Homo sapiens: one gene and its partners. The protein of the gene in region 3 interacts with the protein of the main gene of each other region in a pairwise test. Each region holds a gene or a part of one and is shown on either strand. Other genes may lie near its edges.

Region 1 (3,500 bases), on a different chromosome or scaffold from region 3:
CACATTACTTCAGTCCAGTAGTTTAAGACCAGCCTGGGCAACATAGTGAGACTCTGTCTCCAAAAAAATAAAAAAAACTATCTGGGTGTGGTGGTGCATGCCTGTAGTCCCAGCTACGTGGGAAGCTGAGGTGATACAAACACTTGAGCCCAGGAGGTTGAGGCTGCAGCGAGCTATGATCACACCACTGCACTACAGCCTGGGTGACACAGCAAGACCCCATCTCAAAAAAAATATAAAAGTGATAATATTAATGAAAAGGGATGAAAAGATCACATTCTGAGACTTTTAAATTTTTCTTTGTACAAAGATAATGTACAACTGCAAGTGTGCACACACAAATGCCAACATATAGCACTTGCCTATTTTCTTCCAGGATTTCAATTAAACTCTTCTGCAGAAAATGAAGCACTGAAACAAAAAGAATATGACAAATAAGAATTTAAAACTGTGAAGCTCAATTTCAATAAAATAAAATATTTTATATCACTGTTATCCAAAATGATATCATGATATGGAAACAAAAATTTAAAAGGAAGGGTCATGATGTACCTAAGTTATCTACAATGCTCTACCTATTACCAAGAAACTTAAAAGAGCCAGTTCCAAAATGACTCATACAAGCCATCAACTCATGGAACAAAATAAAATAATAGGACTTACCATTTTTAAGCAGATTATTAACACTTGCTCTACCTGTAGAGGAAAAAATGAACACTGGTAAGGAGTTTCACGACCAAAATCAATGTCATTTAAAAACTATGATGTGATGAGAGGGGTTAGCCAGAAAAAGGACTAGAAAAGTGCAGCCTTACCCAAGTTAAAGTTCTCCATACAGGAAGAAATATTGTCAGTAACTTTCCTGTAAGAGTATAAGTCAGTAGTATTCAATTCTTCCTGAAGACGAGAAGTAAAACGGTGCATAGCCTCAGGTAGAAAAAAATCAGGCAGGCTATTTAGTGAGCTAGAAAAAGAAACAAATATTAAAAATCTGACAATCTAATAGCCCCAGAATATGTGGAGAGGGAAGAGAATCATACAAATGTGGGAATACTGAACTAAATCTTCAAAATACAGCCAGAAAACTACAACTACACACTACCATCACTCGAATTTCCTGGCTTGTCAGCACATCTGGTCTCCCTGCTTCCACCTTGCTTCTCTCCCATCTCCCAGATTATTCTCAACAGAACAGGCAGAGTGACACCGTTAAAACACCATGTCACTTCTCTTACTAAAACCTCCAACAATATCCTTCTCGGTTAAAGTACTAGTTGAAGTGTTTACAGTGACCTACAAGGTCCTCCCGATACAATCTGGCACTACCATTAGCTCCTGACCTCATCTTTATTTATTTTTTTTCTTTTCTTGATTTTTAAAATGGCATCTATCACAATCCTGACCTCATCTTGATCTTTGTTCACTTAGCTCTAGCTACATGGCCTTGCTCTGTTCTGACATACCAGTCTTTGCTTCTGCTGTTTCCTCCATCCAAAATACTCTTCCTTCAAATATACCCAGCAATCACTGCCTCATCCCTTTCAGGTCAATCTCAATTACCTTATCATGTCTGAGCAAAGCTATATGAAGTGACCATAATATTTTAAATTGTAACCCTCACCCCATCCTTTATGTCCCCTTTCCTTCCTTCCCGCTTTTAGATAGCACTCATGCCATCTAATATCCTATAAATGTTACTTATTTATTTTGTCTATTTTCTATCTTCCCCTTAGAATGTAACCTCCATTCTGGACTGTTTCATTCATTCTACCCCCAGTTCCTAGAAGAGTGCTGAAACACAGTAGGCAGTCAATAAAAATTTATCAAATGAGTAAATTAAACATATCAATTTTGCCTCAATTTATATACATCAAAACTGATTGGCTTTGTTTTAAATATAACTGGACAGTTCAAAGTTTTTCTGGAAGAAAATAATTCAAAAATGGGAATATTCAGAATAAGAAGAGTCACTAGAGGGATGACTTAACACTGACATATAATTAAAACACTTTATCAAACTATAGTAAATAAAAGTGTGGTGTTGGTGTATGAATAATTGGACCTAACTCAGAAATCAAACCCATGTATATATGTGAACATATAACACAATAAGGTGGCATTCCAAATATGTGGGCAAAGATGGACGATTCAACAGTTTGGGTAAGTGGTTCCCCATATAAAAAAGAAAACTAAATTGAATCCCTACCTCACACTACATTCAAAGCTTAATTCCAGATGGACATAAAAGTTGAGCAAAAAAAAAAAAAATAGTATAAGGCCTGCAAATAATGTTTTAAATAATCTTGTATTACAGAAAGCACATATAGCAAGGTATAAAACTCAGAAATCTACATACACAAAAATTAGCTGAATTGATAACCAAAATAATATTTTAATTTTTGTAAAGACAAGACACCATGAGAAAGTTAAAGACAAGTAACAAAGGAATGTATTTGGCATATGATCTATAGAGAAGTCTTATAAATCAAGAAAACATTCTAACAAGAAAATGTACAAAGAATATGTAATAAAAAAAGTCAAATTCCACACATTAAAAAATGTTCAATTACACTAGTAATCTGGGATACACAAATTATAATGATAGCATTTTCCTTCATTAGATTTTAAAAGATTTAAAGATTGATAGTATCCAATGTTGGAAATATATGAAGAAGAAACAAGCATTCTAATTCAATGGGTAGTCTGGGGGAGTACAATTTAACAATATCTACCAAGAATTTCAATAGGCCTAATTTTTGGTCCAGAAATTCCACTTCTTGGAATTTATCTCAGAGAAATACACATATATAATTATATACATAAGAATATCACTGCAATGGGGAAGTGATTAAATTACTTTATACCATGTAATATAAATCATGTAATATGTACCATATATAGATACATACATGTCATATATATGGTACATTTAAATTTTGGTATATTCATATTACAGAATATTTATAGCTGAAAAAGTAAGGACTGCTGGTGGGAATGTAAAATGTTGCATATGGAAAACAGTATGACAGTTGCTCAAAAAATTACAAATAGTATTACCATATGGTCCAGCAATCCCACTTCTGGGTATATATCCAAAGAACTGAAAGCAGGATCTCAAATAGATATTTGCACACCCATGTTCATAGCAGCATTATTCACAACAGGCAAGCAGTGGAAGCAACCCAAATGTCCATTGAAAGATGCATGGATGAAAAAAATGCAGTATATGCATACAACAGAATATTAAGCCTTATAAGAGAAGAAAATCCTGTCATATGCTATAACAGGGATGAACCTTAAGGACATTATGTTAAGTGAAATAAGTCAGTCACAAAAATATAAATACAAATATTACACTAATATGAGGTATCTAAAGTAATCAAATTTATGAACGGAAAGTGGCTGCCAAGGGCTGAGCAGGAAATGGAGAGTTGTTACTTAATGTATACAGTTTCAGAGCTTAGCAGATGACAAGGTTCTAGAGATCATTGCACTGCAAT
Region 2 (2,653 bases), on a different chromosome or scaffold from region 3:
GACCCTGGAAGAAAATTCTGAGGCTGTAAGTGGGGTGAGCAACCACAGTGTAATTAATCCCCCACTTAGATTGAATGGGTTTAGATTGGGCTTAGATTGAAGTTCCCTTTTAACTGATTGAGAGATGCTCTGCCAATAGCAAGTGAAATGTGTGTGTCTGCACATGAATATGCATGCAGAGTATATTAAAGAGGTCTGAATACTCCACGATGCCTGTAATTATGAAACATGTGATAAAGCACCACACTAATCCCCTCTCGAGCAAGAGTGTTGTTTTTTGTCCCAGACTGCGTCAATCCTGCATGCCATGAGCACTGCTTTTGCCTCCGCAGCACTTTTATGTTGACAAACCCAAGAGCAGGTGACCCTAGGGAGGCAGATGGCGTCACACTCAAGGGAATCCTTCCAGAAGCCTTCAAGCATAGCTCTGTGAGCAAAGGCCAGACAGACAAAGTGATATCCATCTCGACCCTATAGTGAGTTGAACAAGGTGGGCAAACTGGACGCTGCGCACAAAGCATTTATTTGAAGGAGGACAAGGGAGATTGCTCAAGCTACAGACTACTCAGATTAAAGCAGAAGGATCCTCTCCACTTCCAGGAAGCTTTTCAGCTCAAGCTGAATTAACCAGGGAATCCAGCAGGGACTGGAGCTCAGGAGAAAGCTCCTCAAGCAACTTCTTGGGTCAGCTGTTGAGGAAGGGTGTTTTCTTCATGAAAAAGAGGAAGTTTCTCCATCAGCTGAAAGGAAACACATAGGAGTCAGAAGCAATGGGTGAGGAAAATCGGTCATTCTATCACAATAGGATTACGAGAAAGGGGGCCATCTCATGAAAGAATCTGGCCTTTGGAACAAGATAGTTTTGGGTTTTAAATAATTACTCCATGGTTATTTGCTGTGAGACCTTGGGCCATGACTTAAGCTCTCTGAGGCTTTGTTTCCTGTCTCTAAAACACGGATCATGAGGTTGTCTTGGCAGGGTTTGGAGGATAAACAAAAATAATCAAGAGTCAGGTCTGCCTTGGCACTCACTAAATGAACGTAGCACATAGATTCTTAAGAAGTAACTCGGCCTAACTCACTGCTCTTGCTGTTTGTTTAAATTGACTTTGTGTGTTTATACAGATGCTCATAGGCATCTGAAAAAAAAATACTTTGTTAGGAACATCTGGCTTTTATAATCAACAAAAATCAATTCAATAAAAGACAGTTGGAGAGGAGCTGGATGACATATTTTCCATTTGAAAGCAGGGCGTGGTTAGGTCGCTTCCTTGAGGCTCTCCCGCCTTCTGAATAAAGAGAGGTTACACAGTTGGAGAGAGCAGGAGACCTGGGCTCCCATCCCAGTGCTGTCTCCGCCTCCTGTGTGATCATGCGCAAATCTTTTTCCATTCTGGGTCTTTGTGTTCTCTCTTGAATCAGGAGGGGTTGGATGATACAATCACTAAGCTGTCTCTATTCCTTATTCAACATATGTCAGACAAGGAGTCTTGGAGGGAAATAAGAAGGCATAGAACTATGATACAAAATAAGGGCCTGGGTTTCTGGAAAGAGTTGGCAAGGAAGCTAAGGCCCAAGGCTGATGTATATGCCTCTGGAATCCTTATCTATTAAAAAAAGAGTGAGTGCAAGTGTGTGTGTGTAATTATGGCAGACTAACTCAACTCCTAGTCCCAACCCCTTGCCTGCCTCCACTATGGAGTCTGGAAAAGCTAAAGAGTTGCTTTCTTAGCCTCCCTTGCAGATGGGTATGGCCAGTATAAGCAGGTTCTGGCCAATGAGATATAAGGGACAGTCCACTGCAAGCCTCAAAATGTCTTTCCTTCACTGATTAAAGGAGAGGATCATTCAAGAAAAAGCCTTTTGACTTTTCATTTTGTTCTGTACTAAGAAAAATTCTTCTGCCTTGGGATCCTGTTGACCTGTGACCTTACCCCCAACCCTGTGCTCTCTGAAACATGTGCTGTGTCCACTCAGGGTTAAATGGATTAAGGGCGGTGCAAGATGTGCTTTGTTAAACAGATGCTTGAAGGCAGCATGCTCGTTAAGAGTCATCACCACTCCCTAATCTCAAGTACCCAGGGACACAAACACTGCGGAAGGCCGCAGGGTCCTCTGCCTAGGAAAACCAGAGACCTTTGTTCACTTGTTTATCTGCTGACCTTCCCTCCACTATTGTCCTATGACCCTGCCAAATCCCCCTCTGCGAGAAACACCCAAGAATGATCAATAAAAAAAAAGAAAAAGCCTTTTTTTTTTTTTTTTTTTTTGCTGCTGCCTCTTCTCTCCCACTTCCGGCCAGGAATGAGGATGTGATGTTTGGATCTGTGGCTGGCATATGGTAACCATGGGGTGACAAAGATAAAGACAAAAAGCCAATGTTGTCATGGTATGTTAGAAAGATGAAAAGAGCTTGAGTCCTTAATGAAATCTTTGAGCAGCCTAGATCACCTGTTTCTGGGACTCTTAAATAAATGATTTACACATCTTTGCTACTCAGAGTGTAGTCTGTGGAGCAGCAGTATAGTCATCACTTGGGAGCTTGTTAGAAAGGAAGACTCTCAGACCCCACCCCAGACGTACTGAAGCAGAATCTGCATTTAAAAAAGATGCCCAGCTGGGGTGTCACGGCTCACACCTGTAACCCCAGCTA
Region 3 (3,500 bases):
GAAAGAGAGACAAGACCTCGAGCAAAACAAAGCAAAAAGGCAGCAGAAAACTCACCAATATACTTGCTTCTTTAGTTTATATTTCTAAGTTATTTTGTAAGCTTACCTCATCTCACCTAGCAATTCAAATCACACACAAAAAATACAGTGAAATAATACGTTAGCACAGGAAAACTAGAATTAAAAAACAAAGTCTAAGAAAAGGCCTCACAGTGCTTGTGCTGTACACAAATTTCAATATTAAGGAAAACTTTTCTTTAAATCTTTAGAGTTTTTACAAGAGGTTAGCCAGTGCTCCGATGCTGTGAAATAGTACTTATTATTTCTGGAGTTTAATATGATGTTGACCCTGCATATTTTATGACTTTGATTTTTGATGAATAATTTAAAACTATTTTTAGAAGAAAATATTTATCTCTAACATCTAAAAACTTAGAGAAACAGGTATATTTTTAAAAGAATACATACCTGTTAAATGGTGTTTTTAGCATTGATCAGAACTCAGGCAAATTCCTGTTCAAAAGAACAAAGCACAACATTTATAGGGAGCTTAGTTTTCAGTGCAGAATTCATATACAGATTTTTTTAAAGGAAGTAGGTTTTTGTTGAGAGTAAAAGGTAAATATTGTACCAAGACAGAAGCAAGGATACCAGAAGCCGTAATTGATACTGAGGAAATATGAGAAAAGTAGATATTTCTTAATTCTTCAGTTCTTTTCCTCCAAATTGGAAGGGCAGAATGGGCAAGAATGGAGCTGGACACACAATAGTAGGGACTATGGCACGCCAAACTTGCTTCAGACACAGCTAGTTAATTTTGTAAGTCTTAAATAATACTAGAAAACAAGCCTCTTTCAACCTTTTCTCCAAAAGGTTGAGAGTTAGGACAAATGTAAAATGCTGCTTAATGGGCACAAATAAAACAAGAACATCAAACTCATTTCACTTAGTGTCAGTCCTGATGATTCATCATTATGGTCAGGGCGAACTCTGGTCTTTGGGCCGAAACAATTTTATCCATTAAAAAAAAATCCAGAATGTTCCAGCTTGAATCTTATATCCTTAGGGTTACAATATTGAATTCCGAATCGGGAAACTTAATCTTGCAGCCAGATTTGACAAGATGCTGGTTGAATGGTGGGCAGAAGTGATGATTGTGGGATGAAATGCCCTAGGTCAGAATTTGAGAAAAATAAGAGATTTTGTGAAAGTTTGGCTGTGATATAAGAATGCCAAGTTTGAAAATTTCTCTCTGTTCATATCAGCAGATGGTGTTCCAGGGTCTTAAAAGTAAATCTCTGCTGTATTCATTTTCTCTGTTTCAATATTTCTTGAACAAAGTGAGTCTTTACACATTCTTAGGTGCATTTCTTGGTGTATTTCTAGAACTGCTAATACAAGAGGTGTTTGTAGTAATATTCAGAAGGTTTCTGGGAACGAAGGCTAATATGGCTCAAATCCCAAACAGTCCTACATTGTTCCTAGGTAATATATTAATCCTCAATTCAAGAACTAAAGTTGTGATTTCTTTTCTGAAAACTTTTTTCATTTGTAAACAAACCTATATCTAGATTCCTAGTGACGAAAGAATTTAGAGTAAAAATGAAAATGAGGCAGTCTAGCAATCTAATTCATTAACACACACGCACACTCACAGACATACTTTAAACATTTTGGGAATACTTGACTATTTAACCTCTAATAATCTAAAAATATTTTGTCTCTGTTTTCAATCTTAGTACCTGAAAAAATTATGACAGATGTTTACTTAAAATACTCCTCTCAACTTGGTTGAGAATGGAAAAATACTTTGCAACTTTTTTGTTTTTGTTTTGAGATGAGGTCTTGCCATGTTGCTGAGGCTGGCTGTGAACTCCTGGGCTCAAGAGACGCTCCCACCTCAGCCTCCTGAGTAGTACTTTGCAGCTGTTAAACATCAAGTTTGTGGTAAGAATTCGAGTACATAGTCGATTGGAAAACTGCAAACGTATGAATATTGTGGTTATTTCCTTCCAAAAACAGGGGGGCTCTTTGGTTTGCAATGTACTGCCATTTGTACTAGTGCTGAAACCTATCAACTGCAATTGCTTTCTCCCTTTCTACCTTTATTTATCAAATAGAATTTAAACAGCTAGTTCAGGCAGAGAGTGGAACATCTGAGTAAAAGTGACAGTACATGAACGCAATTCTTATATGCACGTGATTGAAGTGAGTTAATTACATGGTAGACTCCTATGAGTATTTTTGAATTTTTTACTAAAAAATTATAACAGTAATTTCTGCATATGGCAAACCATTGCAATAGCACAGAATAATATAAAGTGGAAAGTAAAGTATCCTGATTCCACTCGCCACAAATAACCACTGTTAACTATTTCTTATATATCCTTCCAGAGATTTTCTGTGCATGTATATGCAATCCTTACACAACCCAAGTAGAACTATACTATACATAGAGTTCTGCAACTTACTTTTACATATAAAAAATATTTTGAACCTCTTCTCATGTGACTATGAATAGATCTGCATCCTTCTCTGTAGTACTCCCTTTTATGGATATACAGTGATTTATTTAACCAGTTCTCTCTTGATCTAGCTTTTAAAAATAAGTTAGTCTCTGCAATCAGTCTAACAAGTAGAGAAGTTTCATTTCTCTTAACATAAAAGATTTCAGAATTTTCCAAATAGGATTTGTTTGAGCAGAAGAACTCATAAATAGTGTCTCCTGAGAGAAGGTTAAGTGTAATGTTAAAAGTGAAGAGTAGCTTTATGCCACAAGAAAAGATACTTATCATCTATATATTGAATACTCAAACCAATTAAAATAGCAATAAAGATCACAATATTTTATTTAGTAACAAAGAGGTAAGAATGACAGAGAATGGCGTAAAGAGCTGGTTCTCAGTCAGACACACTGTGACTTGAAAACCTTTATGTTTGCTCCAAGCCACCAAACTCAACTGAACAAAATGCTTGTTATTTTCTTTCATGAGCCTCAATGCTGTTTATTAAGATAATTGACATAGATGTATGTTTCCAATGCATGATTCAGTTAGTGTATCTAGATTAGTGAAAAAGAGACCAGAAGAAATTCATGGTAATTAATGTCAGTTAAATTTCTGTTTTCTGTATTTCATATTGTCAGACCAATCCTTCAACCCTGATTCATAAGTTAAATAATGCAGTCACAAGCAGGGCTAAATAAAAACATGTAATGAGACTTAGCTCTTGAATTCTACTAATTTAGGGTTCTGAGAAGGTAGACAAAGTGTACATTATTGAAATATTCCAGAGAATGTAAAAAGTTATGTTTTACGTTTCTTTTAGGATATGTCTCTGCTCGTTCTCTTTAATTACGTCACCTCACATATACTAAGAAGACAGTAACGTAGGTGGTAATGAAATCTTATATTTGAATAAAAGATGGGAGTGTGAGCTGACCATGCCATCTTTCCCTACACAGACTTCCAGAATTGAGCCTATGGAACTGTCCATTGGGT
Region 4 (4,228 bases), on a different chromosome or scaffold from region 3:
TTTGTGAATGGCTCCCTGGCTCGATACTTGAGGAGCAGAAAATGAACCAACTCAGCCATCTTCCTACTGAGTGCTACTTGGAAGCTCGTCTCCAGGTCAGGAAAGGTGCTTGGCCCTTCCTGTTCTTCGTTGCTGGAGCCCTCATCGGATTGACTCCAGAGAGTATAGTTGATGGTAGTGGGGAGGGTGGAGGCTCCCTGAGGACTGTGGGGAGGACTTGGTGACTCGGCAGCAGGCACCTCCCGCAGGGTGACTTCCACTAGAGTAGAGGAGGAGGAGGCAGTCTCCTGCTCCTCAGTAGCAGGAGCCTGCGCACCCACCAAGCCCAGGGCCTCTCCTTGGGCCTCAAGGCCTTCCTCAGGCTTGCAGTGCTGACTCCTCTGCTCAAGTGGCATGATGACTCTGGTCAGGGCAGCAGGTAGGAGTGTGGGCAGGAGCTAGTGCTGCTCCGGGGCCTGTCTCCTCAGAACCTGAAGGAACAAGTGAGAGGGCGCCTCAGGGTACAGCCGGCCAGCACATGCTGAGGCTGAAGGAATGACAGTAGGGAGGGTGAGGCCAGGCGCTCTGGAGTCCCATGTGTTCTGGGGCCGGTGCGGCCCTTGGTGTGCATTCAAGGCAAACCTTCAGTGTTGGCACTGTCTGCACCCCCTCTGCTCTGTGACCTCAGGACACTGCCTCAGACCAAGGCCTCACTGCCTTGTTCTTGGAACTCCTGATTCCTGGGAGAGGAATCCATGGGCCTCAGGGTGCAGACTGCAAGTACAGCCACAGATTCCCAAAATTGTCAGGAGGGTCGGCCAGACTCTGTGAGGTCCCCACTCTACTGGGGTGGAGGGTCCCTTCTGTGCTCACTCAGGGCCCTCACCTTTCTCCTTGCAGGGCCTAATACCGCCCTTTTGCTGGCCAAAGAAACTCTCATGGCAAGAATTCACATCCCTGATACGGTACAGAAGGACATGAGGGGACCAACATCTGGCCATACATAACCAGATCCTCCCACAAAGGACAATGAGAGATGTCCAAATTCATTGGAGTCCAGGTGTCCTGGGTGACGAGCCTGCTTGGTCCTCACCACTACTCCTGCTAGGGCCTGAGAGCCTCCCTCTACTGACCTGAGTGCAGCCCCTTCAGACCAAGGCCTCCCTTTCCCTGACATCAAAGATCCCAGGATAATGGAGGGACCTCAGCAGGTAGCCTTGCCCAGGCTCTCTGAGGGAATAGCAGGGGCAGGGCAGATTTCTGTGGGGCCCTCTGTCAGCGTTCTGGCCCAGGGGTACCCTCAATCCTACCTCAGGCTTCTCACCTGGATGCTTGGTAGATCTTAGGACCACTGTGTCTGTCGACTACATGGGGGCCCCTGTGTTGACCTGAGTCACCCTCTGAAGAAAAGGTCCTCAACTCCCTGAGATCTGGAAACAGAAGTGAGGAGGAGCCACATCCTGTCACTCCCAGGTAGGTTGTCCAGGGCTGACCCCTTTGGTTCTAGGGTGAGGCTTCTGATGGCCTCCTGTGGGTTACTCATCTTTACTCCTGCCAGGGACTGCCCTTCCTCAACCCCCAACCCCCTGAAATGAGCAGACAGCTCCTCTTTACACCAACACCTTATCTCCCTGAGGGTTCCCCAACCTCTTGCCTGTGGTACAAATGACATTGCCAATTGGAGCTATCTCTGATCGGGTTCCCTTAGAGCTAAGAATAAGGGACAGCCAGACTCTGTGGCATCCCTTCTTTCTGGGCCGGGGGTATCCCCAGTCCTCATGAAGGGGGCACACCTTGGGTCCGGCAGATCCTGGGATTCCTCCCTCTGCTGACCTGAAGTGCCACTCCTCAGACCACAGCCCGCAAATCTGTCACCCTGAAGTCGCAATGAGCATGGGGCACATTAGGCCACTGTGCCCAGGATCCCCCAGCCCAAGGTTGCCACTGATCTGGACTCCAAGGTCCCCTCAGTCCTCCCTCTTCTTCCTCCCCTTGACTCCTCGCAGGGCTGGGCTCCAACTCCCTGCTGAAGTGGGTCTGTATCCCTAGGATTCCCGCGGCCGAATGAAAAGGTGGCTCAGTTTGAGACAGGGGTACTTTGGGCCCCTGTCCTGGCATGCTGGGAGCCCTCCGGACTCCATTATCTTCCAGGAGGGGCTTGGGCCCATCCTCTGCTTCCCAAAGGCCGTACTCACGATACCGACCCCCTTCCCTCCCTGAGCCACAGATGTGAACGTCAGGATCCGCGTGCTTGGCCGCCATTCCCGGAGCTTCCGTGGGTTGATTGCAGGGGCAAAGCTCCGATTCTGCCAGGATGGGTGGGGATGGGAATCGGGGTTTGGGGGTCCCGTTGATGTTTGAGCGATGGTGGTGGGTTTGGTGTTGGGGGATGGGGGTGGGGTTGGTGTTGGGGGATGGGAATGGTGGTGGGGGTGCGGGGGGTTACCCTCAGTCCCCTCTTGGGGTCCTGACCTTGATTCCTGGCTGAGTCTGGGCCCTGAGCACTTCTAACCAGCCCTGCCCTGGTCACACAAAGCTCTTACACCAGAGTTCCCTGCGGTTAAAGCGGCGGGGGGTGGCGGGGTGAGGTGGTGGCGACTCAGCCTGAGAAGTCTTCCCCTGCAGGGTGGTCCAGGCCCGGCAGCAGAGGCAGCGCTGGATTATTGGGGGCCCTCTGTCTGGGGTGAGGCCCGCCTCAGTCCTCCCTCGGCATCTTACCTTGCCTCCTCACGGAGCCTGCGCCTGCTTCCCTCCACCGACGTCAGGCCGTTGCTCAGGGCGAGAATCTCGCTGTTCTCTGACCTCCAACGCGCAAGTCAGTGGCGTCACATCCGGCCCCGTGACTTCCCTGGGTTCACAGCAGGGGTGGAACTGGATTCTTCCTGGATGGGGATCCAGATGGAGGTGGAGGTAAGCATGAAGATGGTGTTGGGGGTAGGGGTAGGGATAGGGACGGGGATCCTGAGGCTGTAGATCCTGGTGGGGTTGGGGGAGTTGGGGGTGGGAGGGGCCTTTGGTCATCCCTCAAGGTCCTGACTTGGATGCCAGGCTGAGCCTGGACCGCCATCCTCTGCCGATTGTGTCTGCTCCCCTCAGACCAAGTCTCTGACTCTGAGTCCCCCTGAAGTGGCACTGGGGGAGGGGTGTGGTCGGGGTGACATTATTGCCTAAGTTTACCAGGGCTGACAAGAGGGACTGAGCTGGATTCTGTGGTCCCACTACGTGGGGGAGGGTGGACCCTCAGTCCTCACTCAAGAGGGTCCTCTTCCTCACTCCTGGCTGTTGGATGAAGTGATTGGCAGGAGATACTCTGTTTCTGTAACGTCTGTGCATTTGCACAGCTGCACCCCTTGTAGAGAATGGCTGCGGGTCCCAGGCCAGGAGCTCCCTGCAGGGCGGGAGCTCCCACGATCGTATTGACCTCTGGAAGAAGACAGACACTTTCCCACGGGAGCTCCTCTCCAGCCAGAGCTACACTTGGCAAACCTTTGGTCCTAAATGATTTATTCACTGAATTGAAGAAATACGGTTTACATATCTTCCAAGTATATATGTAGGTAGCGATATATATATTTATTTCTACGAACTAACACCTACCCTTAGTATGCATCGTTCACTCTTACTATCCTAATCTACTTCTATTCCAGTCTTTGTGTTCTGTTGAAGGAATTTTTTTTTAAACGTAATTCCTCTCCCACTATGTTGGTTTCAGGTTGTTATTAGCAGAACTCTGGAGCCATGCTGCCTTAACAAACCCAATTTTCCTGGTGTCCTGCTATTACCTAGGGCTCTTGGCATCGTGTTTTCAGGAGCTGCCTCAGATTGTGCAATGAAGTGAAGTGGAAATTTTAAAACTTTTATTCTACCCATTCTGTTATCTGCCGTCTAGGCAGGCTACAAACCTCCCCAACATCCCTGCCGCTAACCCCCTCTAACCGACACGGCAAGTGTCACACACAAGTACCAGCTCAACAAGGTCTTCAGTCTCACCCTGGACTGGCCCTGTTTTGTTGTGTAGATTTTCTTGCTAATACTGGTTTTTTACTTTCTGTTTCCATTCTATAAATTTACAGGGTTGATTTGGGAAGCAGAGCACAGCAGCCCAAATTTGCTTGTAATGTCGGCGACTACAGGTAAGGCACTAAATTGTAAATAATTTAAGCTGAGTTTACATTTTTACACTGTTGTGTTCCCCATGAATGAATATGTTATACTCCTCTATGTATGTCAAGCTATTTTTTCCTGAATA
Region 5 (4,048 bases), on a different chromosome or scaffold from region 3:
AATATTAGGTTGCTGTTAATAATGCAAAATATAAAGATCATCACAACACAGAAAAAAATTTCCAAAACAGTATTAAATAAAAATAACAAAAAAGTATATGAAAAAGGATCACAATCATGTAAAAACATGGGTACATGTGGATAAAGATAGGAGGGGAACAGAATTATCAGTTATATTATGGTAGCAGAATTGAGTGAGATTTTTCATCTTTAATTTCTTTCAATGTTGCATTAATAAATTATTTAACCAGTGTTTTAAAATACTCTATATAAAAGAATTAGCTAAACTATATCCATTTTTCATAGCTATAAATCCACAGAAACCTTTGGGTGTATTTTAAAAAATATTTTAGATCTCTCAGGTTTCATTATTTTTTTTCCCTTTAAAAAAACCTTTATTTCACCATTATTCTTTTTTTTTATTATTATACTTTAAGTTTTAGGGTACATGTGCACAATGTGCAGGTTAGAAGTTTCATTACTTTAAAACCGAACTAGGAGTCAAATTCAGTTGTCTCTCCTTTGGGATAGGCAAGTTAGGGAAGCTCTCTTTCTGCTTCAACCACTGCCTCCAGATTGCGGCTGCTATCAAGGCAGAATGGACAAGAATATTAGAATAAGGAAGTGACTTCTAGTCTCGGAGATCCACTTACTGACAGCACAATCCTGGGAAAGTCACAGAACCTCTCTAATCCTTATGTTCCTCAACCTCTAAGCTTCTGTATTTCCGACATTGTTCAGGGAAGCCAACTGCTTAAAGATTAATCTCAGATCCTGGACCCATCCCCCACCCCGCTACTTCCTCTACCTGGGGAAAACAGTTCTTAGTATTGGACGCCACCTTGCCAGGGACAGATGAAACCTTGAAGAGTTGATTATATCCCTAAAGATAAATAACATTTGTTCCCCAAGAAGAAAACTAATATTCACTGAACACCTGTGCACTTGACACTGTACCAAGTATTTCATATATGCTATATTGTATATCTTCCTGGGTCCCACTAGACCACAGAACCAATTTCTGGAGGGAGCCAGGGCAATCTGCATTTTAAATAAATTATTTATTTAAATAAATTTTAAATAAATTATTTATTTAAATAAATTTTAAATAAATTATTTAAATAAATTTTAAATAAATTATTTAAATAAATTTTAAATAAATTATTTAAATAAATTTTAAATAAATTATTTAAATAAATTTTAAATAAATTATTTATTTAAATAAATTTTAAATAAATTATTTAAATAAATTTTAAATAAATTATTTAAATAAATTTTAAATAAATTATTTATTTAAATAAATTTTAAATAAATTATTTATTTAAATAAATTTTAAATAAAGTGCACACACAAGTTTGAAAACTAAAGGTCTAGGGACAAATCATTAGGGTGTTGTGGTGTACATTTTTTAAAATGTAATGGAAATTATCAGAGTATATTGCAAGTAGTAAGTGTTAAGTGTTGTTTCTGTAAAAACAGTTGTCGGTTATATATTGTCTACATGTGTACTAGGTCACAATATAAAATTTATTTCTTACTGTCGGTCACAGTCAAAAGGTCTGAAAAACACCGGCTGAGCATTACAGACTTAGAATAATGCACAGTGAGGCAGAATAAAAACAAAAAAGCAAGAAGAAGGAGATGGCATAATATCTATAATTTAAGCTCCACAAGTATCTAGTGAATTAGCAAAATGCAAGACAGCTAAACTCTGATCATTCACAGTAATAAGCGGAATTAAGGTATTGGTAATTTGGCCAAAAGGCCAATAACGTTACTTTAGCCAATAACCTTATTCTACCCCCATTTTTTGTTTACTGTAGATAAGAACAAGTAGAAGGGACAAATTAATCAAACTTCACTATCTCTTATGCCAGATGGGATGGTCGTTAAGAAATGCATGGTATATAGAAAGAAGGGAAGCAGTTTAGTTCATTCATAATCAAATTCCAATACCTGAATAACCAAAAGTAACCATTCATTAAAACCTTCTGTGGGGTCCTACTATTGATCATGGCTAATCAGTCCTGAATACTCCAAATATTTATTACGCCATCCCCCCGCCGCCCCTTTGTTTAAAACCAAGCCACGGAATTTATGGGAAACTAGGGTAACAACTCTATCTCTAAGTGAACTTAAGACAACCAGATTCCCTAGCAGTGGCAAGCGAGCGGCGCGCCTGCTTTTCTCCACTCCGAGGCGGGAAAAGCAGAGCTCCCGGAGTCGCGATGTTCCTTAGAGTGGGAACGACACGTAGCTCAAGCCAGTGCCCCACAGGAACCGGGTGGCAGTTGACCAGGTGCTCCCCCGGGGACTTGGGGCCCGGAAGCCTTGCCTACAGAGGAGAATAAAAAGCGCGATCCCACCTGCACACATACAAACACACTATCGCCCGCGACAAGCCAAGACAGAAGCACAACACGTGTTTCTGTCGCGTGGGGGAGACGTGAAAGGCTGGGGGCGTGGAGGACTGTAGCAAAACCTTCTCTACCCCCGGCCCACTGACCCTACCCTTCTGCCCCCGTCTCTCCAGATCGGCTGGAGTTCGAGTCCTCAGATCGGGAATTCACGCGCGGGAAAAGCGCAAAAGAGAGCGAAGCCTGCTGACGAACGGGACAAACGAAAACCCCACAAACTTACCTTACTGGCAAGTCGCCGCCGCTCGCTGTCCGGCCCTGAACTATACGGGCAGGCCTCCGAGACTGCTAGACGCCAGAGGGGCGGGTCCGGACCTGCTCGAGCCGGAAAGAATCGGCCTCCTTAGTGGGCAGGTTCCCGCTGAAGTGAAGCTAACCGAGACTGAGGCTTAAAAGGGGTCGACCTGGTTAACTAGAAAGGGCGACCAGTGACCCTGACCTGGACGCGCTCGGATTGGTCGATTCCAGTGCAGTCTCAGATGAGACTCTTCTATGATTGGCCAGAAAAGTCAAGCGGGAACCCGGAGGTTGGCAGGTGGGGGGCGGGAACAAAACAAAGTTGTTACCCTAGCAACGGAGAGACGCCACGCTCTGCACAGTCTATTTTCGGAGCCTAGCCAGAGACGGGAAAACTGACCAAGGTGAGGAAACTCGAACCTCAAGACGGGGAAAGACAGGGTCCTCAGATGCTGTGGCTATCAGAAAAACTAGGGAGAACTCTAGATATTTATAACTCTGCGAGATACCCCAAAAAGCCACAAGTTGGGCAAGGTGGAGAAGACCCGTTCCCTAAATCCCGCTATCCTAGACTCTTCACTAAATCCCGCTATCCTAGACTCTAGAAACAGGACGCTGCTTTAACAAAACTCGGTTTTACAGGATGTGAGTGAAAGATGGATGCTGATCGACTGTCAGAAGGCAAAAGTAAACATCTGAAAGTTTCCCAACTGGTCTTCTCTCAACTCTCACATGCACTTATTGGTTCTCCCTTCCCATTAATAATGACTAATTTGGGAATGTAAACCATATTTTCTTATAGGAGGACCTGGGTGCTCCAAACTGGAGCAGCCACTGTACCCTTCTGTTTTATATGTGCAGGCACGATTTATCCTGGCCTAGCATGCCTTGGTTAGGAAATGTTTTGGGGGATATCACACTTCAGACTGAAAAAAAAATGGCCCCAGTACTTACTACGTGAATAATGTCCTTTGTGCGACAACTTGAACGCTGTGGTCTGAGGGTTCCAGTGTTGCTTGGTTAGATAAGCTGAGGAGTGAGAAGTAATCAGACCTTCACTTGGTGGGCCCGAGTGTACTGTGCAGAGACTACTTGTACCTACAAGACCTGCTACTCGCCAAGGGCTGATTGGGAGAGTAAGTATTACATGTCGTTTGACTGTAACTATCAAAAGGTGGGGAAGTGTGACCAAAAAAATTAAATCTGAGTGAAGGGAGAGAACCTAGTTTGACCAAAGAGGGAGGAGTCATTACTCCTTAAGAGCTTCTTGTGATAAGGATTCAGAACAGAGACCATATTTCCTGAAGAAAGGAAAAAAATAGGACTAGGGAGAAAATTTAAAGCACAGCAAGAAAATTTGCCAGGCCGAGCGCGGTGGCTCCCGCCTGTAATCCC
Region 6 (3,500 bases), on a different chromosome or scaffold from region 3:
ACCCTCTGTCTCAATGCTTGCTGCCGACATTTTTTTCATTAAATTGTTCTGTTTTCCAGCTGGGCAAGATGGCTCACACTTGTAATCCCAGCACTGTGGGAGGCCGAAGGTGGGAGGATCACTTAAGCCCAAGAGTTCCAGACCAGCCTGGGCAACATGGTGAGGCTTCAACTCTATATTAAACAATAATAATAATAATAATAGTAAAAATCTGGCCGGGTGCGGTGGCTCACACCTGTAATCCCAGCACTTTGGGAGGCTGTGGCGTGTGGATCACGAGGTCAGGAGACGGAGACCATCCTGGCTAACATGGTGAAACTCCGTCTCTACTAAAAAAATACAAAAAATTAGCCGGGTGTGGTGGCGGGCGCCTGTAGTCCCAGCTACTAGGGAGGCTGAGGCAGGAGAATGGCGTGAACCTGGGAGGCGGAGCTTGCAGTGAGCCAAGATCACACCATTGCACTCCAGCCTGGGCGACAGAGCGAGACTCCGTCTCAAAAAAAAAAAAATAGTAAAAATTTAAAAAGTTCTATTTTCCTACTGTAATTCTTTATTCTTTCTTTTCTTTTTTTTTTTTTTTGAGACGGAGTCTCGCTCTGTCGCCCAGGCTGGAGTGCAGTGGCATGATCTCGGCTCACTGCAAGCTCCGCCTCCCAGGTTCACGCCATTCTCCTGCCTCAGCCTCCCAAGTAGCTGGGACTACAGGCGCCCGCCAGCACACCCAGCTAATTTTTGTATTTTTAGTAGAGATGGGGTTTCACTGTGTTAGCCAGGATGGTCTCGATCTCCTGACCTTATGATCCGCCCGCCTCAGCCTCCCAAAGTGCTGGGATTACAGGCGTGAGCCACCGCGCCTGGCCTCCTACTGTAATTCTTATGAAGAATAGCTTGGTATAACAACGTAATCTTTCTTTGATAATCAAGAACCTTGCAGCTCTCAGGGCCATCCTCTGTAGTTCTTAAGCCACAGTATATACCACAATACAGAACAACTAGCATTTGGTTATCACTTCACCCACTGTTGGATCCATAGGACCCTGCAAGGATCTCCGTCACCAGCCCCACTTCCAGGCACCCAGGCCTGCCTATTTCCCTCTCAATCCCCCACTCCCAGGGCCCTGGGTAAGGGCTTCTCGTGGCTCCTTGGACCAGCGACAGCAGAAGCATTCTCCCAGCCACCATTTCTGTGACTTCCGAACCACTGCACACATGCCACTTTAGAAAGAGAAATCACTCCACGTGAGAATATGTACACAAATGTTCACAGCAGCTTTATTTTTAATAGTGCCAAACTAGAAACAACCCAAACCTGTCCTTCAATGGGTAAATGGTTAAACTAACTGCTGTATACCCATACCATGGAATACCACTCAGCAACTGCTGAAACATACCACAACTTGGGTGGATCTCAGGGGCAGGATAGTCAACGAAAAAAGCCAATCTCAAAAAGTCACATCCTGTATAACTCCATGCATATAACATTCCTGAAAAGACAAAAGTATAGAGATGCAGACTAGATTAGTACTTGCCAGCAGTTATGAATGGTGGGGAAAAGGGGCTGCTGTGGCTGTAAGGGGGTGGGACAAGGAGATATCTGGGATGATGACATAGTTTTGAATCTTGATTGTGGTAGTGGTTATAGGAATTTTCACACGATAAAAAATGACAATGAACTCTATACACCTTGCTCCGATGCCCAATGTCCTGGTTTAGACATTTTACTACAGTTGTGTAAATATGTAACCGTGGGAGAAAGCTGGGGGAAGGGTACTGGGACCTCTCTGTGCCATTTGTGCAACTTCCTGTGAATCTATAATTATTTCAAAATATGGAAAGAAAAAAGAGAGATTTGTTGAAAGTGTGCAGTGATCACACCATTCTCCCATTTGAACTCCTTCAACAGTGACTGACTGCCTGGAGAATAAGATTCAGTTCCCTAGCACAGCACAGGAGATGGCAGTCCTCTGGCCCAATCTTAGGCAACATCAAACCACCTGGGATCAGCGGACACACCCAGCTACTGCACACCTTCAGGCCTCTGCCTAAGCTGTTCCATCTGCTTGAAATGACTTCCCTCCCCTTTTTGACCTGCTGGTCAACATTCACCCTCCTTCAAAAATCTAGTTCAAGCACTTGCTTCTCTTACATGTTTCCTCCTCCAGCCTTTCCCTTCAAACCATGCTGGGCATGCCCCCATTTTTGCCACCCTCCCAGTATTCGCTTTAGATTGCATTCCGAGTCTACTTACACTTCTACTCTGTAAGGGCAGAAAATGTGTCTGATTTATTTCTCAATCCTCTACTGATTACACAGTGGGTGCCCAAAAAATGTTTGTTAAAGACAAAGCTAAATGGGAGAAAAAATGCGGTAGGGCAGCTGGGAGCAGTGGTTAAGATCGGGACTTTGACTTCAGACTCCCAGTGGGTCTGCTATTTATCTGGGTGATGTGCAGCAAGCGATTGCACTCATCTGCAACACGGACGAGCAGAGAGCCTCAGGGTACCTCTAGATAAGAAGTGCACAGCCCACTTAGGAAGGCATCTTGATGCAGGAATGCACCCTAAATCTGACGAAGCCTCGTCTAGATCCAATTACTAACTTACAGAGATTACAGAGAAACACATTCAATTACACTGCAGAGATGCAATCAATCAAATACCAACTATGGAAATGCTAAGGAACAACTCGATTGCTTCAACAAATAAACTACCAAGAAAACAAAGAAATAGGAGGGGGATCTATGGATTAAGAGAAACTTAAAAGACGTATCATCCAATCAACAACGTATGGCCTTCTCTTGCTCTACTTTCAAACTATTAAGGAAACCTAAAATTCATGGGGCAGCTGGAAATTTGAATATTGACTAGTTATTTGATGATATTAAGCAATTATTACTTTTTCAACTTTAAAAGAGTCAGTACCTTTAGAGACCTACCGAAGTGTGAAGTATAACTACTGTACACCTCCTGAGCACCCTGAGGTTGTGCCCGTATGTTTTACAGATGAGTGCAATCGCTTCTGCACATCACCCAGATAAGCAGCAGACCCACTGGGAGTCTGACTCAAAGTCCTGATCTTACCCACTGCTCCGAGCTACCCTACCACATTTATTCTCCCATTTAGCTTTGTCTTTACCAAACATTTACTGGGCACCCACTGTGTAATTAGTATCCCAAAAAATAATGAATGAAATGACATGATATTTAGGATTTGCTTGAAAATAATTATGGGTGGTAAGGGTGCAAGTGGATACCATTAGAGATGAAACAAGATTGGTCAGGAGTTAATAACTGTTAAAGCAGGACACTATTCTGTTTATTTTGTATATGTTTGAAAGTTCCCATAATAAAAGTTAAAATAAAAAGAATGATGTTGAAACTGGTTCATACAATCAAGTACAAAGTATCAGGAATTAATTATTCTGAAGGAAAATTATGTAAAAATGGCACCTTCCTAACCAAGTGTGAGGTGTAACTACTGTATGTATGTAGACCAAAAAT
Region 7 (3,500 bases), on a different chromosome or scaffold from region 3:
AACGAGGGGACTTCCCAGTTTGCAGACTAAGCTGTGGACATGGAAACAAACTTAATGGAAACATGTGCTTGTGTCCTGTCCTTTTTTTTTTTCTTGAGACGGAGTTTTGTTCTTGTTACCCAGGCTGGAGTGCAATGGCACGATCTCAGGCCACCGCAACCTCTGCCTCCTGGGTTCAAGCGGTTCTCCCGCCTCAGCCTCCGGCGTAGCTGGGATTACAGGCAAGCGTCACCATACCCAGCTAATTTTCTGTATTTTTAGTAGAGACGGGGTTTCTCCATAATGGTCAGCCTGGTCTTGAACTCTCGACCTTAGGTGATCCACCCGCCTCGGCGTCCCAAAGTGCTGGGATTGCAGGTGTGAGCCACCGCGCCCAGCCATGTGTCCCGTTCTTGCTAAATGGCTCACATCACAGGACGAAATTTTGCAAAGCGGCAGCAGCCTGGAAGAAATTCAAGTGATCGAATGTACACTACAGGATGCCCAATGGGGAGAGACTTCAACTCTGATTTTGGGAGATTGAGTGGTGGATTAGGTAGAAGCTGAAATGTGTACATGCCAGTCTGGCACATTTAGTAACTTAGAAGAGGGTACTAGGCTTAGTACCTGAGTGATAAAATAATCTGTACAACAAACCCCCACGACAAGAGTTTACCTATATAACAAACCAGCACATATAAAACAAAGTAGAAGACTGGGGCGGTGGCTCATGCCTGTAATCCCAGCACTTTGGGAGGCCGAGGCAAGCGGATCACCTGAGGTCAGAAGTTTGAGGCCAGCCTGGCCAACATGGTGAAACCCGTCTCTACTGAAAAGATACAAAAATTAGCCAGGCGTGGTGGTGGGCACCTGTAATCCCAGCTACTCAAGAGGCTGACGCAGGAAAATCGCTTGAACCTAGAAGGTGGAGGCTGCAGTAGGCTGAGACCATGCCATTGCCCTCCAGCCTGGGCGACAGGGTGAGACCATGTCTCAAAAAAAAAAAAAAAAAAAAAGATTTGCACCATTTTTACAACATTTCATAAACCTAAAGAGGAAGCCATTTTTTCCTTTTTCATCTTCTCAGGTGAAAGACAAGAAATGAAGTCATTCAGAAAAATAAATGCTCTTGGCCAAGCACAGTGGCTCACGCCTATAATCCCAGAAACTTGGGAGGCCAAGGCGGGTGGATTACCTGAGGTCAGGAGTTTGAAATCAGTCTGGCCATCATGGCAAAACCCCGTCTCTACTAAAAATACAAAAATTAGCTGGGCATGGTGGCGGGTGCCTCTAATCCCAGCTACTTGAGAGGGTGAGGCAGGAGAATTGCTTGAACCCAAGAGGCGGAGGTTGCAGTGAGCTGAGATGGCGCCATTGTACTCCAGCCTGGGTGACAGAGCAAGACTCTGTCTCAAAAATAAATAAATAAATGGTTCCTTAGAGCTCAAAATCCCGAAAGCGAACAAGGTTGGTGGTTTATGGTCCAGGTGGTCTACTGTACCTGCTTACAGGTACAGATTAAATGACCCATCTCAGGATCTACTACTCTCATATAAAGACCCAACATGAACAAACAAAAGTGCTACAAAACCAAAAACATAAAAAGGCACTGTCTCTTCTGGTTCTACATACTTAAGATAAAAAGTAAAAAATTATAAAATCAAAAGACACCACTAAACACCGTGGGACTCGTGACTGATTTTATCAGTTTGGTCCCTAAGACCTTAAGGACACCATTGTGCTAATAAAAAATCAATAACAGAGACAGACCATGCAAAAGTCCCCCTTATGGGGTCCTTAAAAATGGTTCCAGATGGGGTCTCGCTCTGTCACCCAGGCTGGAGCGCGGCAGTGTGATCATAGCTCGCTGCGGCCTCCAACTCCTCAGCTCAAGTGATCCTCCTGCCTCAGTTTCCCAGGTGGCTGGGACTACAGGCATGTGCCACCATGCCTGGATAACTTTTAAAAATTTTTTTGCAGGGCTGGGTGCAGTGGCTCATGCCTATAATTCCAGCACTTTGGGAGGCCAAGACGGGCAGATTACTTGAGGTCAGAAATTCAAGACCAGCCTGGCCAAGATAGTGAAACCCTGTCTCTACTAAAAATATAAAAATTAGCCAAGTGTGGTGGTGCGCACCTGTAATCCCAGCTATCAGGGATGCTGAGGCAGGAGAATCGCTTGAACCTGGGAGGTGGAGGTTGCAGTGAGCCGAGATCACGCCACTGAACTCCAGCCTGGGTGATAGAGTGACTCTGTCAAAAAAAAAAAAAAAAGTAATTTTTTTTCATAGAGATGGTGTCTATGTTGCCCAGGTTGGTTTTGAAGTGATCTTCAAGCGATCCTCCCACCTCGGCCTCTCAAAGTGCTGGGATGACAGGCATGAGCCACTGTGCCTGGCCCCAGGTAAGGTTTTTAAGATGGCTGGCTGTGCTGACCCTACAGAATTCCCCAAGTCATGCTTCCTGCCGTCTCACTGCCACTTCAGTGCTCAGTGTCTTTGCAGCCCCGTCCCTACATTTCTATGCTTAGACAGGAAGGGCACAGAGAAAGCTGGACCTCGAATCTGAAGTGAGGGGTTACAGCACCAGCTCAGATCCTAATTCCCTAAAACGGCTAAGCTATCACTGATTAGATGTGAACAACGAAGGCAAAACAGCAGGGTGTTATTCACACAGTACACCAGGTACACTGTTGATGAATTAAGTCCCAGGGGCATCACAACGAATGCAGAACTGAACACTGTGAGTTTTGATACCAGGAAGAACTCCACGTCGAGTCCCAGGACCCAGCCCGTGGCCCCGCTCACTCTGCCACAAAACACCTGGGTGACCCAGTGGAGACTGACAGCGCTCTGAGATCCGTGAGCACTGATGTGCAGGGACTCCATGGGAGATACTCACTCTGCGGAGGGGCGTGGAGGTGGGGAAGGGACTGGTACTGCTGTGCTGCTTTGGGGGAGCAGGCGGCCCCTCGGGCGAGCTGGTGGAAGAGGGAGAGCTCAGGGACGAATGGCTGAGTACAGAGTCTTCTTCGGGGAAAGATTCCAGCACCTCACTCTCAGGGGTCATGTTCTTGCCTTGGGGTGTGGCTGGAAGGGACTTGATTTGCGGTGGTCTCACAGCCAAGATGTCCTGCAAGACCACCATAGGCACCTTCCCTTTGAACAGGATGCCCCCAGCTTCACTCCAACTGTCCTGCTCCTTTCTGGGGCACATTCTCGGGCCACTCGTCAGCTCCGGGCAGCTCCGTGGCGAACATTCCTGGGAGTCGCCTCTCCTCCCTGCACCTCCACAGCCAACACCCTCCTCCTCTGTTTTGCAAGGAATGTCTGAAAGGGTCTCTCCAGGAAATGCCAACTTGTCGTTCTGAATGGCCTTCAACAACCCCTGCTGATCCCCAGTGTCTTCTCGCTGGCCATTTATTGCCTCCCTGGAGGGAGAGGCTTCAGAATTTAGTTTATTGTGGTCCACAAGACTGTCTGGCTGCTCATTCGAGTCCTCTGTCAAATCAATGATGACTG

Evidence for each region.
Region 1: the proteins of POU6F2 (region 3) and THADA interact in binary tests that used the Homo sapiens proteins (3 or more experiments, as listed by UniProt).
Region 2: the proteins of POU6F2 (region 3) and BFSP2 interact in binary tests that used the Homo sapiens proteins (3 or more experiments, as listed by UniProt).
Region 4: the proteins of POU6F2 (region 3) and MAGEA12 interact in binary tests that used the Homo sapiens proteins (3 or more experiments, as listed by UniProt).
Region 5: the proteins of POU6F2 (region 3) and NUP62CL interact in binary tests that used the Homo sapiens proteins (3 or more experiments, as listed by UniProt).
Region 6: the proteins of POU6F2 (region 3) and MAPK9 interact in binary tests that used the Homo sapiens proteins (3 or more experiments, as listed by UniProt).
Region 7: the proteins of POU6F2 (region 3) and CHAF1A interact in binary tests that used the Homo sapiens proteins (3 or more experiments, as listed by UniProt).

Annotation. Positions count from the first base shown.
Region 1 is NC_000002.12:43,586,039-43,589,538, forward strand, and holds part of THADA (tRNA (32-2'-O)-methyltransferase regulator THADA), read right to left. Parts: intron 965-3,500; coding exon 816-964; intron 697-815; coding exon 664-696; intron 412-663; coding exon 363-411; intron 1-362. UniProt on the Homo sapiens protein: Together with methyltransferase FTSJ1, methylates the 2'-O-ribose of nucleotides at position 32 of the anticodon loop of substrate tRNAs.
Region 2 is NC_000003.12:133,473,056-133,475,708, reverse strand, and holds the end of BFSP2 (phakinin), read right to left. Parts: intron 741-2,653; coding exon 737-740; 3' UTR 501-736; downstream 1-500.
Region 3 is NC_000007.14:38,984,409-38,987,908, forward strand, and holds part of POU6F2 (POU domain, class 6, transcription factor 2), read left to right. Parts: intron 1-468; exon of another isoform or gene 469-513; intron 514-3,500. UniProt on the Homo sapiens protein: Probable transcription factor likely to be involved in early steps in the differentiation of amacrine and ganglion cells. Recognizes and binds to the DNA sequence 5'-ATGCAAAT-3'. Isoform 1 does not bind DNA.
Region 4 is NC_000023.11:152,732,329-152,736,556, reverse strand, and holds the start of MAGEA12 (melanoma-associated antigen 12), read right to left. Parts: upstream 2,801-4,228; 5' UTR 2,698-2,800; intron 2,696-2,697; exon of another isoform or gene 2,523-2,695; intron 1,410-2,522; 5' UTR 1,304-1,409; intron 471-1,303; 5' UTR 396-470; coding exon 1-395. Other genes in the region: CSAG1 (chondrosarcoma-associated gene 1 protein), read left to right, coding at 4,097-4,112. UniProt on the Homo sapiens protein: Not known, though may play a role tumor transformation or progression. In vitro promotes cell viability in melanoma cell lines.
Region 5 is NC_000023.11:107,203,634-107,207,681, forward strand, and holds the start of NUP62CL (nucleoporin-62 C-terminal-like protein), read right to left. Parts: upstream 2,801-4,048; 5' UTR 2,640-2,800; intron 1-2,639.
Region 6 is NC_000005.10:180,285,584-180,289,083, forward strand, and holds part of MAPK9 (mitogen-activated protein kinase 9), read right to left. Parts: intron 1,485-3,500; exon of another isoform or gene 1,392-1,484; intron 1-1,391. UniProt on the Homo sapiens protein: Serine/threonine-protein kinase involved in various processes such as cell proliferation, differentiation, migration, transformation and programmed cell death.
Region 7 is NC_000019.10:4,409,140-4,412,639, reverse strand, and holds part of CHAF1A (chromatin assembly factor 1 subunit A), read right to left. Parts: coding exon 2,881-3,500; intron 2,136-2,880; exon of another isoform or gene 2,117-2,135; intron 1-2,116. UniProt on the Homo sapiens protein: Acts as a component of the histone chaperone complex chromatin assembly factor 1 (CAF-1), which assembles histone octamers onto DNA during replication and repair.